Linked DNA regions of Homo sapiens: regions 1 and 2 are each linked to region 3. Evidence: fine-mapped expression QTL. A gene starts in region 3. Each other region holds a variant in brackets. All regions are shown on one strand. Distances are between the middles of the regions. Region 1 has its middle 56 kb from the start of LINC03011. Region 2 has its middle 4.7 kb from the start of LINC03011. Region 3 holds the start of KCTD7 (potassium channel tetramerization domain containing 7).

Evidence for each region.
Region 1: its variant is fine-mapped to the expression of KCTD7 in macrophages (Nedelec 2016, PIP 0.95).
Region 2: its variant is fine-mapped to the expression of KCTD7 in whole blood (TOPMed, PIP 0.93).

The regions. Positions count from the first base shown.
Region 1 is chr7:66,548,012-66,552,248 of GRCh38, reverse strand. It overlaps the pseudogene RABGEF1P1. Among named protein-coding and RNA genes, the nearest start is that of LINC03011, 56 kb to the right of the region's middle. The variant TG/G (reference allele first, on the strand shown) is at 1,982.
Region 2 is chr7:66,496,246-66,500,482 of GRCh38, reverse strand. No RefSeq gene overlaps it. Among named protein-coding and RNA genes, the nearest start is that of LINC03011, 4.7 kb to the right of the region's middle. The variant G/A (reference allele first, on the strand shown) is at 1,724.
Region 3 is chr7:66,626,956-66,631,192 of GRCh38, reverse strand. It overlaps KCTD7 (potassium channel tetramerization domain containing 7), which reads right to left and starts at 2,312. Exons shown (of 4, transcript NM_153033.5): 1 at 1,985-2,312. The coding sequence starts at 2,128. RefSeq lists silencers at 1,952-2,521, 3,532-3,731.

The DNA of each region.
Region 1 (4,237 bases), 79 kb after region 3:
TTGGATTTTAGTAGAGACGGGGCTTCACCATGTTGGCCAGGCTGGTCTCGAACTCCTGACCTCAGGTGATCCACCCACCTCCCTGCCTCAGCCTCCCAAAGCGTTGGGATTACAGGCGTGAGCCACCGCGCCCGGCCTGTCTCTGCCTTTGACCTGAGAGCAAACCAGGTCGCCTCCAGATCTGTATGTTCAGTGCCAGGCCTGACCCTTGTAACTGGCTCTTTTTTTTTGGGAAACAGTGTCTCACCCGGTTGCCCAGGCTGGAGCACAGTGGCGCAATCATAGCTCACTGCAGCCTCCACCTGCCGGCCTCAAGCACTCCTCCTGCCTCATCCTCTTGAGTAGCTGGGACAATAGGTACGCGCCACCACGCCTGACTAATTTTTAATTTTTTTGCAGAGACGGGGGCAGTCTCACTACATGGCCCAGGTTTGTGATCAGCTCTTGGTGGAAGGAGGTGGCTTCTAGCTGGGCTATGCCACCCCAGGCTGTGGAGTTCCAGGTGAACCTGGTCCTGACAGGAGTCAGGGCCTAGGGTCTCAGGCCAGGTTGTGGCGTGGCCTTGCTGAATCCTATCACTGTCCCTGCTGAGCAGCCATACTGGGCCCTGTGGTGGTTCAGATGGATGGTCCTGACAGCACGGTCTGCACAGCGTCTGACTCACTTTGTGGCCTGGGCAAGTCCCTGGCATCTCTGCACCTCAGCTTCCCAGCTGTACAATGAGGTGGGGTAAGATTAGATCAATATTTTTTCTTTCTTCTTCTTTTTTATTTCTTAGGAGATGGGGTCTCAGCCAGGCACAGTGGCTCCCACCTGTAATCCCAGCACTTTGGGATGCTGGGGTGGGAGGATCACTTGAGGTCAGGAGTTTGAGACCAGCCTGGCCAACATGGTGAAACCTCGCCTCTACTAAAAATACAAAGAATTAGCTGGGTGTGGTGGTGCATGCCTGAAGTCTCAGCTACTCGGGAGGCTAAGGCATGAGAATCGCTTGAACTCAGGAGGTGGAGGTTGCAGTAAGTCAAGATTGCAAGATTGACTCCAGCCTGAGCGACAGAGCGAGTCTCTGTCTTGGGAAAAAAAAAGAAGGCCGGGAGCAGTGGCTCACACCTGTAATCTCAGCACTTTGGGGAGCCAGGGTGGGTGGATCATGAGGTCAGGAGTTCGAGACCAGCCTGGCCAACATGGGGAAACCCTGTCTCTACTAAAAATAGAAAAAACAGCTGGGCGTGGTGGCAGGTGCATGTAATCCCAGCTGCTTGGGAAGCTGAGGCAGGAGAATCAGTTGAACCCAGGAGGCAGAGGTTGCAGTGAGCCGAGATCGTGCCACTGCACTCCAGCCTGGGCAACAGAGCGAGACTCTGTCTTGGGGGGAAAAAAAAGAAGAGATGAGGTCTCATTCTGTCATCCAGGCAGGAGTACAGTGGCATAATCATAGCTCACTGCAGCCGTAAACTCTGGGGCTCAGGTGATCCTCCGGCCTCAGCCTCCTGTGTAGCTGGGACTACAAGTGCCTACTACCACGCCTGGCTAATTTTTAGAAAAAACTTTTTGGTCTATGGCCATACCACCCTGAATGCGCCTGATCTTGCCTGATCTCAGAAGGGAAGCAGGGTTGGGCCTGGTTAGTAGTTGGATGGGAGAAAAAACTTTTTGTAGAGACACGGTCTCATTATGTTGCCCAGGTTTGTCTCAAACTCCGGGACTCAAGCAATCCTCCCACTTAGGCCTCCCAAACTGCTGGGATTAGAGACGTGAGCCACCACACCTGGCCAATCAGTGTTTCTTTTTCTTTTTCTTTTTGAGACAGAGTCCTGCTCTGTCATCCAGCTTGGAGTGCAGTGGTGTGATCTCGACTCACTGCAACCTCTGCCTCCTGGGCTGAAGCCATCCTCCCACCTCAAACGCCCAAGTAGCTAGGACTACAGGCGTGCGCCACCATGCCGGCTAATTTTTCTTTTTCTTTTTTTTTTTTTTTTTT[TG/G]AGACAGAGTCTTGTTCTGTTTCCCAGGCTGGAGTGCAGTGGTACAGTCTTGGCTCACTGCAACCTCTGCCTCCCAAGTTCAAGTGATCCTCCTGTCTCAGCCCGCCTAGTAGCTGGGATTACAGGCATGCATCACCATGCCTGGCTAATTTTTGTATTTTCAGTAGAGATGGGGTTTTGCCATGTTGACCAGGCTGGTCTCCAACTCCTGACCTCAGGTGATCCGCCCACCTTGGCCTCCCAAAGTGCTGGGATTACATGGGTGAGCCACCGTGCCTGGCCCTAATTTTTCTATTTTTAGTTGAGACAGGGTTTCACCATGTTGGTCAGTCTGGGCTCGAACTCCTGTTCTCAAGTGATCTGCCTGCCTTGGCCTCCCAAAGTGCTGGGATACAGTGTTTCTTAATCGGGTGCACATCATAGTCACCCGTGAGTAATTTCTCCCAAGTCCTATCATACACCTTAATCGGAACCATCATGCCAGGTGGCCCCCAGGTGCCTGGTGAAAGGTTCTGTATACCCTGCAGATGCCAGCAGAACGGAGGGGGTCCAGCCAGTCTCTGGCAGTGCCCGCCTGCCTCACCCCTGTCAGTCACATGCTACCCCTCTGCTACCCAGGAGGCCCCCATGATCCTCCCTGAGGCCCAGCCTGCCTCTTGTCCTTCTAGCTGACCTCATACACTCATTGGTGCTATGGCAGGGCCTTCCCTCTGTAGGGCACCTGCAGGTTTCGGGGGGCCTCTTGGGGATACCTGTCCTTGTTCATGGAGACCTCAGGCTCCCTGGGGAGGCACCAGGGTGGAGAGGGGCTATATTTTTTTCAAGGTGGTAAGCCATCTATTGCATGCCCACCTGGACCACATCTATCTCTGCCTTTAAAAAATTTATTAAAATTTTTTTTTTAGAGACAGGGTCTTGCTCTGTTGCTCAGGCTGGAGTGCAGTGGTACAATCATAGCTCACTGCAGCCTCCAACTCCTGGTGTCTCTGTCTTTTTCATTTTTTTTTTGAGATGGAGTCTTGCTCTGTCTCCCAGGCTGGAGTGCAGGGGTGTGATCTCAGTTCACTGCAACCTCCGCCTTCCGGGTTCAGCAATTCTCCTGCCTCAGTCCCCCAAGTAGCTGGGATTGCAGGTGCCCACAACCACGCCCAGCTAATTGTTGTATTTTTAGTAGAGATAGGGTTTCACCATGTTGCTCAGGCTGGTCTTGAACTCCTGACCTTAAGTGATCTGCTTGCCTCCCAAAGTGCTGGGATTATAGGCGTGAGCCACTGCACCCGGCTCTACCTTTTTTTCAAAAGGAACAGTCTAGTCCCCACAGGGCAGAAGGGTGGCTTCCTTGCCTCCGACTCACCTGGCACCTTGGCATCATTGCAGATTTCTGCAAAGGGTCTGAAAAAGAAAGAAAAGAGGTGGCAGTTAGAAAATGAGGTTTTCCCCTCCTTTTTTTTTTTTTTTTTTTTTTTTTTGAGATGGAGTCTCGCTTGGTCACCCAGGCCGAAGTGCAGTGGCACAATTTTGGCTGACGGCAGCCTCCACCTCCTGGGTTCACACCATTCTCCTGCCTCAGCCTCCTGAGTAGCTGGGACTACAGGTGCCCGCCACCACGCCCAGCTAAGTTTTATATTTTTAGTAGATACGGGGTTTCGCCGTGTTGGCCAGGCTGGTCTTGAACTCCTGACCTCAGGTGATCTGCCTGCCTCCGCCTCCCAAAGTGCTGGGATTACAGGCATGAGCCATTGCGTTTGGCCGTTTTCCCCTCCTTCTCACCTGCCCTCTGAGATGTGGTGCTGCTGCTGCTGCAGGAGCCTGGTAACACCGAAATAAAAATGGGGAACACACCGTCCCGACAGAGCATTCCCCATATAGGCCCTGGACGATGGACCTGGGCTGGCAAATCATTCCTCCAGGTCTGCTGTCCTCATCTATAAAGCGAGGATATTGTCTGACCAAGGGATCAGAAACGTGTGCCCAGATTTATGCAAGTGGATAGTCATCACAGCATTATTATCAATTACTATTTTTGAGACAGTCTTACTCTTTTGCCCAGGCTGGAGTTCAGTGGTGCCATCCTAGCTCACGGCAGCCTCAAAGTTCTGGGCTCAATCAGTCCTTCTGCCTCAGCTTCCCAGTAGTTGGGAATGCAGGTGCACACCACCATGCCCGTCTAATTTATTTTTTAATTAATTAATTTTTTTTTTTTTTGAGATGGAGTCTTGCTCTGTTGCCCAGGCTGTTGTGCTATGGCATGGTCT
Region 2 (4,237 bases), 130 kb after region 3:
TGTGGGCTGGGTTACGTGATTCCCTTCTGACAGATAGGAAAAAGCAAAAGTGATGGCTTGCAACTTTGCAAGCTACATCATAAAAGGTACTATGGCTTCCTCCTTGCTCACTCTTTGATTACTCACTTGGGAAAGCCAGCTGTCACACCATGACACCTAAGCAGCCTGTAGGGAGGCTCATGTGACAGGAACTGAGGCCTCCGGTCAGCAGTCACATGAGTGAGCCATCTTGGAAACAGGCTTTAGGTGACTGCAGTCTCAGAGGACAGCTTGACTGCAATGTCACGAGACACCCTGAGCCCAGATGACCCAGCTATGCCACTCCTGAATTCCTGACTCACAGAAATGGAGTTCCTAAGTAAATATTTTATTTATTTATTTATTTATTTATTTTTGAGACAGAGTCTCACTCTGTCACCCAGGCTGGAGTGTGGTGGTGTGATCTTGGCTCACTGTAACCTCTCCCTCCCTGGCTCAAGTGATTCTCCCACATCAGCCTCCTAAGTAGCTGGGACCACAGGTGTGCACCATCACACCTGGCTAATGTTTGCATTTTCTGTAGAGATGGAGTCTCACTATGTTGCCCACGTTGATCTTAAACTGCTGGACGCAAGTGATCTTCCCACCTCGGCCTCTCAAAGTGTTGGGATTACAGGCATGAGCCACTGTGCCTGGTCCTAAGTATTTATTTTCAGCCACTAGGTCTGGAGTAATTTGTTACATAGCAGCAGATAAATAATACACGTATTTTCTATAGCGATCATATTTATAATTTAAATTGAATTAAAAAGGTTGGGAGCAGTGGCTCATGCCTGTAATCCTAGCACTTTAGGAGGCTGAGGCTGGAAGATCGCTTGAGCCCATGAGTTTGAGACCAGCCTGGGCAATATGGCAAAACACTTTCTCTACAAAATACAAAAAAAAATTAGCTGGGTGTGGGCCGGGTGCGGTGGCTCATGCCTGTAATCCCAGTACTTCGGGAGGCTGAGGCCGGCGGATCACGAGGTCAGGAGATCAAGACCATTTTGGCTTTAATAGATGGTGAAACCTCGTCTCTATTAAAAATACAAAAAATTTAGCCAGACGTGGTGGCAGGCGCCTGTAGTCCCAGCTACTCAGGAGGTGGAGGCAGGAGAATGGCATGAACCCAGGAGGCAGAGCTTGCAGTGAGCCGAGATCGCGCCACTACACTCCAGCCTGGGCAACAGAGTGAGACTCTATCTCAAAAAACAAAATAAACAAACAAAAATTAGCTGGGTGTGGTGGCGGCGTGCACCTGTAGTCCCAGATACTTGGAGACTATGGTGGGAGAATCACCTGAGTCAAGGAATTCGAGGCTGCAGTGAGCTGTGACTGTGCCACTGTACTCCAGCCTGCATGACAGAGTAAGATTTTGCCTCAAAAAACATTTTTTTTGGCCGGGTGCAGTGGCTCATGCATTTTGGGAGGCCGAGGCAGGCGGATCACGAGGTCAAGAGATCAAGACCATCCTGGCCAACATGGTGAAACCCTGTCTACTAAAAATACAAAAATTAGCTGGGCATGGTGGCATGTGCCTGTAGTCCCAGCTACTCGAGAGGCTGAGGCAGGAGAATCGCTTGAACCCAGGAGGCGGAGGTGGCAGTGAGCCGAGATCACACCACTGCACTCCAGCTCAAAAAAAAAAATTTTTTTTTTTAATTAACAAGTTCTAGTATCTAAAATGAGCAAAATCGTCACGTGT[G/A]GTGGATCACACCTGTAATCCCAGCACTTTGGGATGCCAAGGCACGTGGATCATCTGAGGTCAGGAGTTCAAGACCAGGCTGCAGTGAGTCAAGATTGCACCACTGCACTCCAGCCGGGGAGACAGAGTGAGACTCCATCTCAAAAAAAAAAAAAAAAAAAAAGAAAAAAAAAAAAGTAAATATGCGTTTGAAAAGAACAGCATCAGCCAAGTACAGTGGCTCACGCCTGTAATCCCAGCACTTTGGGAGGCCAAGGGTGGAGGATAGCTGAGCCCAGGAGTTTGAGACCACCCTGGGCAACATGGTGAAACCCTGTCTCTACAAAAAATACAAAAATTAGCCAACTGTGGTAGCACAACCTGTAGTCTCAGCTACTTAGGAGGCTGGGGGAAGGATTGCTTGAGTCTGGGAGGTCGAGGCTGCAGTGAGCCATGATTGCGCCACCTCACTCCAGCCTGGGCAACAGAGCAAGAACCTCTCTCAAAAAAGAAAAAAAAAACATGCAAAAAGAAAACAAAACAGAACAGCATCATTTCCTTATCATTAGTTTGAAGGAAGGGAATCACTGGTAAAAGTTTCCATTTTCTTTTTTTTGAGATGGAGTCTCACTCTGTTGCCCAGGCTGGAGTGCAGTGGCATGATCTTGGCTCACTGCAAGCTCCACCTCCCGGGTTCACACCATTCTCCTGCCTCAGCCTCCCAAGTAGCTGGGACTACAGGCACCCGCCACCATGCCTGGCCAATTTTTTGTATTTTTTAGTAGAGATGGGGTTTCACCATGTTAGCCAGGATGGTCTCAATCTCCTGACCTCGTGATCCGCCCGCCTCAGCCTCCCAAAGTGCTGGGATTACAGGTGAGAGTCACTGTGCCTGGCCAAAAGTTTTCATTTTCAAAAAAAGCATTAAAATGTAGTGTGAGGCCAGGCATGATGGCACATTCCTGTAATCCCAGCACTTCCGGAAGCTGAAATGGATAGCCTGAGCCCAGGAGGTTAAGGCTGCAGTGAGCAGTGTTTGTGTCGCTGCACACCAGCAGCCTGGGCAACAGAAGAAGAGCCTGTCTCAAAACAACAAAACATGGTTTACCACAACCAACAGGAAAATTCTGGATAAAGCTATGTATGAAATATTTACTGCTCTGCTCAACAAGGTAGTGCAGAGGTCAAGGGCAAAAGTCCTGGGGTCAGGTCACCTAGTCTGCTGTCTAATTAGCTGTGTCATCTTTGGAAAGGTACTTGAACTCTCTGTGCCTTATAATTCATTTTCTAAAATGTGGGCAGGGCGTGGTGGCTCATGCTTGTAATCCCAGCACTTTGGGAGGCCAAGGCGGGTGAATCATCTGAGGCCAGGAGTTCGAGACCAGCCTGGTAAACAAGGTGAAACGTGGTCTCTATTAAAAACACAAAAATTAGCTGGGTGTGGTAGTGGGCACCTGTAATCCCAGCTACTGGGGAGGCTGAGGTTGGAGAATTGCTTGAACCCAGGAGGCAGAGGTTGCAGTGAGCCGAGATCATGCCACTGCACTCCAGCCTGGATGACAGAACAAGACTCTGTCTCAAAAACAAACAAACAAAAAGTGGATAGCAGTATCTACCTCGAAGAATTGTTATGGGATTGACAGTGCAGAGAACCTAGCAACTATAAAATAAAAAAAAGTTTCAGGACCCTCTATAAATTTATCATGCCAGGAGGGAAGTTACACCCTGACCGAGTCACATAGCATGTTTGCAACTTCTGCTTCTGTTTTTTTTTTGAGACGGAGTCTCGCTCTGTCGCCCGGGTCAGAGTGCAGTGGCAGGATCTCAGCTCACTGCAAGCTCCACCTCCCGGGTTCACGCCATTCTCCTGCCTCAGCCTCCCAAGTAGCTGGGACTACAGGTGCCCGCCACCAAGCCCAGCAAATTTTTTGTGTTTTTAGTAGAGACGGGGTTTCACTGTGTTAGCCAGGCTGGTCTCGATCTCCTGACCTCATGATCCACCTGCCTCAGCCTCCCAAAGTGCTGGGATTACAGGTGTGAGCCACCGCGCCCGGCCACTTCTGCTTCTTAAATTATAATTTATTCCTTCCTTATTATTTTCATTCGGTAAATGACTATGAGAGACCAGAGACTAGTCCTACTCTCCTTCCAATCACTCATCTTTATTACACATTAACTGCCTCCTTTATTGTTCTGTACCTCACACCAGATGGCACAAAAGACCCCATGACTTACATCTTCAGTGTAGAAGGTAAAATACACCTTTCCCGGAAAAAAGACCACCTAGTCTGGGCGCCGTCACTCATGCCTGTAATCCCGGTACTTTGGGAGGCTGAGGTGAGTGGACTGCTTAAGCCCAGGAATTTGAGACTGGCCTGGGCAATGTGGTGAAACCCTGTCTCTACAAAAAATACAAAAATTAGTCAGGTGTGTTGGTGCACGCCTGTAGTCCCAGCTACTAGGGATGCTGAGGTGGGAGGATCACTTGAGCCAGGAGGCTGAGGCTGTAATGAGTTGCGATTGCACCACTGCACT
Region 3 (4,237 bases):
AAATAAAGCTGACCCAGGGCCTTGTGCAGCGCCTGGCTCAAATAAAGACCCAAAATTCACCGAATGAATGAAAGAAATAGACAGGTAGTTACACTTCCGTGTGTGTATGCACTGTTACTCTTCTGCACCCACAGGACATGAAAATGCCTTGCGCTTATTCTGTAGGTCCTCTAAAACCATTTTATGTGTATATCAAGGGCTCAGATATCATTTTGGAATAATAATACTTAACATTTCTGGAGCTCTTTAAACCTTTTCTAAAGATACTTCATACCAATCCAAGTGCTTGCTCCATATTAGAGATGAGAGGATTGAAGCAGAGAGGACAAAAGCCATCGGAAACAGTTTTGGAGCTCACATGGGGCAATGTCATCAGTGGGGGGAACTGGTGGTGGGGCCCTGGTCTGCAATCTGTGGTCTTGTGCTCTTTCCCTCAAACCATATCATTTTCCCAATGACAGTGCACAAAAAAATAGCACCACTGTGACTAATGACTTTTTTCCAATTGCAGAGATTACTTCTAGATTTTTGCTCATTTTCCCATGGCATTGTGTGTATGGGGCTTGCAATCCCAGCACAACACTATCTGCTTCCCAAGAGCATCACCTAGCCCAGCCTGTTGAGGGCCTCAATTGTTGAGGGCCTCCATTGTCCTGGGACTCCGCATACCACATGCTCCTGGATCTGGCACTACCTTAGTCCCTGCCTCCTAGAAGCCATCTTCGGTGTCCAGTAATGCTTCACCTTCCCTCCTCTTTATTTTTTATTTGTAGAGATGGAGTCTGTGTTGCCCAAGCTGGTCCCAGACTCCTGGCCTCAAACCATCCTCCTGCCTTGACCTCCCAAAGTGCTGGGATTACAAGTGTAAGCCACCACACCTGGCATCGTTTCCCTTCTCTTGCTTTTTTTGTTTTTGTTTGTTTGTAGGTACGGTCTTACTCTATCACACCCAGGCTGGAGTACAGTGGCACAATTACAGCTCACTGCAGCCTCAACCTCCAGGGCTCAAGCAATCCTCCCAACTCACCTTCCTGAGCACCTGGGACTACAGGCACACACCACCAAGCCTGGCTAATTTTCATTTTTGTAGAGGCAGGGTCTCACTGTTGCCCTGACTAGTCTCTAACTGCTGGGATCAAGCAATCCTCCCACCTCAGCATCCCAAACTGCTGAGATTACAGATGTGAGCCACCATGCCTGGTATCTTCTCCCGTCTCTTGAGTGTCATTTCAGGTGTTGACATGATAGTATCACACACATTAAGTAAGACCCGTGGAAGCCCCTGTGCACCAGAGCACAGCAGCCTGTGAGTGAAAGCCATGGGATGCCAGGTGACCGTGCCTACATCTATGAACTGGCCTGCCCCTTATGTGCAGACAGCTCCTTGCCTTGTTCCTTAGGTAGCTGGAGACTAGGTGTGGGCAACCACTACAGCATCCTGTTGGATTCTCTAGAAGACATCTTTTTCTTTTCTTTTTTTTATTCATCCAACCCAAAATGCCTTTGTTTTTCCAGTCGTAGTAGGGACGGGGCCTCGCTATGTTGCCCAGGCTGGCCTCCAACTCCTGCCCTCAAGCGATCCTCCCTCCCAATGTGTTGGGATTACAGGCTCGAGCTACGGTGCCTGGTCAGACACACCATCAGCTCTCGGGGCTCCAGGGTCCCCCTCCCACGGCCCACCCTCCCTCCTGTCTTCGGTAAAAGTGGGACATGGCGATGGGAGTAAATCACCCCAGTGACTACTGGGCGGAGGGTGTAGGGGGTGGGGAAGCACACCTAGTGGGTGTAATTGACAGGGGTTGAAGGTGGGTGGGTAGGGGTGCAGGTGGGCGGGGGAGTTGCAGGTGGGCGGGGGAGGGGCGCAAGTCCGCGGGCCCCGCCCCCAACCCCGGCCCCGCCCACCCGCCGAGGACCGCTATGCCCCGCGCCCGCTTCTCCCCCGCGCCCCTCCCCACGCCCCGCGGCCCGCCGCCCGCCCGGGTACCTCCTGTGGCAGCAGGGGCAGCGCGTGCCCCGCCTGCGTGGCCGTCGGCGTGGCCGGCTCCAGAAAGTCGTCTTCGGCGTCAGAGCTGGACATGGCACCGTCCTGACGACGGCTGTCTGGCTCCCGCCCCGTGACTACCACCATCCCTCTGGCTCTGGGCAGTGGGCGCGGCTTCGGGCGGGCGGAGGCGGCGGCCCCGGGCACTCCCTACCGCCGAGCAGCGCCTGGCATGACGCGGCCGGCTGCGGGCTGGCCGGAGGGGGGCGAGAGGCAGTGCGCAGGCGGGAGGGCGGTGGCTCCCTCAACGCCGACCCGCTCGCGCCCAGCTGGGGCCTGACCCGACCGCCTCCCGCTACTGGCCGACGCCGCGCTGGTTCCGCCCTGATTGGCAGGAAGCTCGCCCAGTCGAAGAGCAGGCAGCGCCAGCGGCCGGCGCCTGAGTGGTCCCTGGGTTGGGGGGGGGGGGGGGGGGCGGCCTGCGAGCCTGCCGTGCACTGATTGGTCCTCTGGCCAGCGGGCGCGCCCTCTCCGAGAGACCCGGCGGTGGTGCGCCGCTACGCTCTCATAACTGGGCGTCGGAGTCTGCCGTGAAGAGGGTTCTCACCCGCGTCAGGGTAGACGCCTTATCCCTTCACACAGGGGGTCACGACTTACTCGTGTGTCTGGCCCCAGAGCAGCGGGTCCTTGTCTCCTCAATGGAAGGCCTGAGCAGCCTTTCCTGGAGGATGTGGCGGGAGGAGGGCTGAGGTGGCTGCGGACACGCCACCGCGGCTGGCCCCGCCCCGAGCCGCAGGGCACCGCCCGGGTGTCCAGTTCTTCCTCACTCGCTCGCGCAGAAATCCGAACGAGAAAACCCAAAATAGGAGCGCTTGAGTTCAATGAATAATGACAGTGACTCCCCACCGTGACCGTTTTTCCACCGGGACACACAGATGGAGACAGGCCCTTCCCCAAGATGCTCCCGGCTCCCTGGGAGGCGGAGTCCAGCCCTAGAGGCTCTATCAGCGCAGGGAGTCTCCTGGGGGTCAAGGTTCTTAGCCCGTTCAAGCCATTTTCTCCTTTCTTTAAAAGACAAAGTCTCACTCTGTTACCCAGGCTGAAGTGCAGTGGCGCAATCATAGCTCATTGCAACCCCTGGGCTCAAGCAATCCTCCCGCCCCAGCCTCCCGAGTAGCTGGGACCACAGACGCGCACCACCACACTCAGCTGATTTTTTAAAATTTTGGCCGGGCGCAGTGGCTCACGCCTGTAATCCTGGCTCTTTGGTAAGCGATGCGGGTGGATCACCTGAGGTCAGGAAGTTGAGACCAGCCTGGCCAACATGGTGAAACCTCATCTCTACTAAAAATACAAAATTAGCCAGGCATGGTGGCACACCTGCAATCCCAGCTACTAGGGAGGCTGAGGCAGGAGAATCGCTTGAACCCAGGAGATGGAGATTGCAGTGAGGCGAGATCACGGCCACTATACTCCAACCTGGGCAACAAGAGCGAAACTCCGTCTCAAAAAAGAAAAAAAAATTTTTTTTTTTTTTTTTTTTTAAGAAATGGGGTCTTGTCATGTTGCCCAGGCTGGTCTCAAACTCCTTGCCTCAAGCTGTCCTCCCTCGTCAGCCTCCCAAAGTGCTGGGATCGCAGGCGTGTGCAACCATGCTTCTCCTTTTCAAACCGTTTTCACACCCAGTTCCTCATCTCATTCTCACAGTGTAGTGACAGAAAAGAAAACTGAGTCGTAGATTAGACAGCTCCAGGATGGCAAAGATGAGCTGGTGGCATAGCACTTCCTCTGTTAGACCATCGCACTCCCAGCTGCAGGAGTGTCCTAGGTCTGTGTTTTCTCCAACTTCAGTTGCATCAAAATCCCTGGAGGGAGACCTTGTTTAAACACAGATGAAAAGGAATGAAATCACGTCATCTGCAGCAACGTGGATGGACGTCATTATGTTAAGTGAAATAAGCCAGGCACAGAAAGACATAAATATTGCATGTTCTTATCTGTGGCAGCTAAAACAAATCGATCTCATAAATTTAGAGAGTAGAAAGAAACCAGAGGCTGGGAACGGTTGGGTGAGAAATGAAGAGATTTAGGTTAATGAAGGACATACAGTTAGATAAAAAGGTTTATGTTCTATGGTTCAAAAGCAGAGTAGTGACTATAATTAACAACAATGGATTGTATATTTCAAAATAGCTGGAAGACACTTTGGGAAGCCAAGGCGGGAGGATACCTTGAGCCCAGGAGGTCAAGACCAGC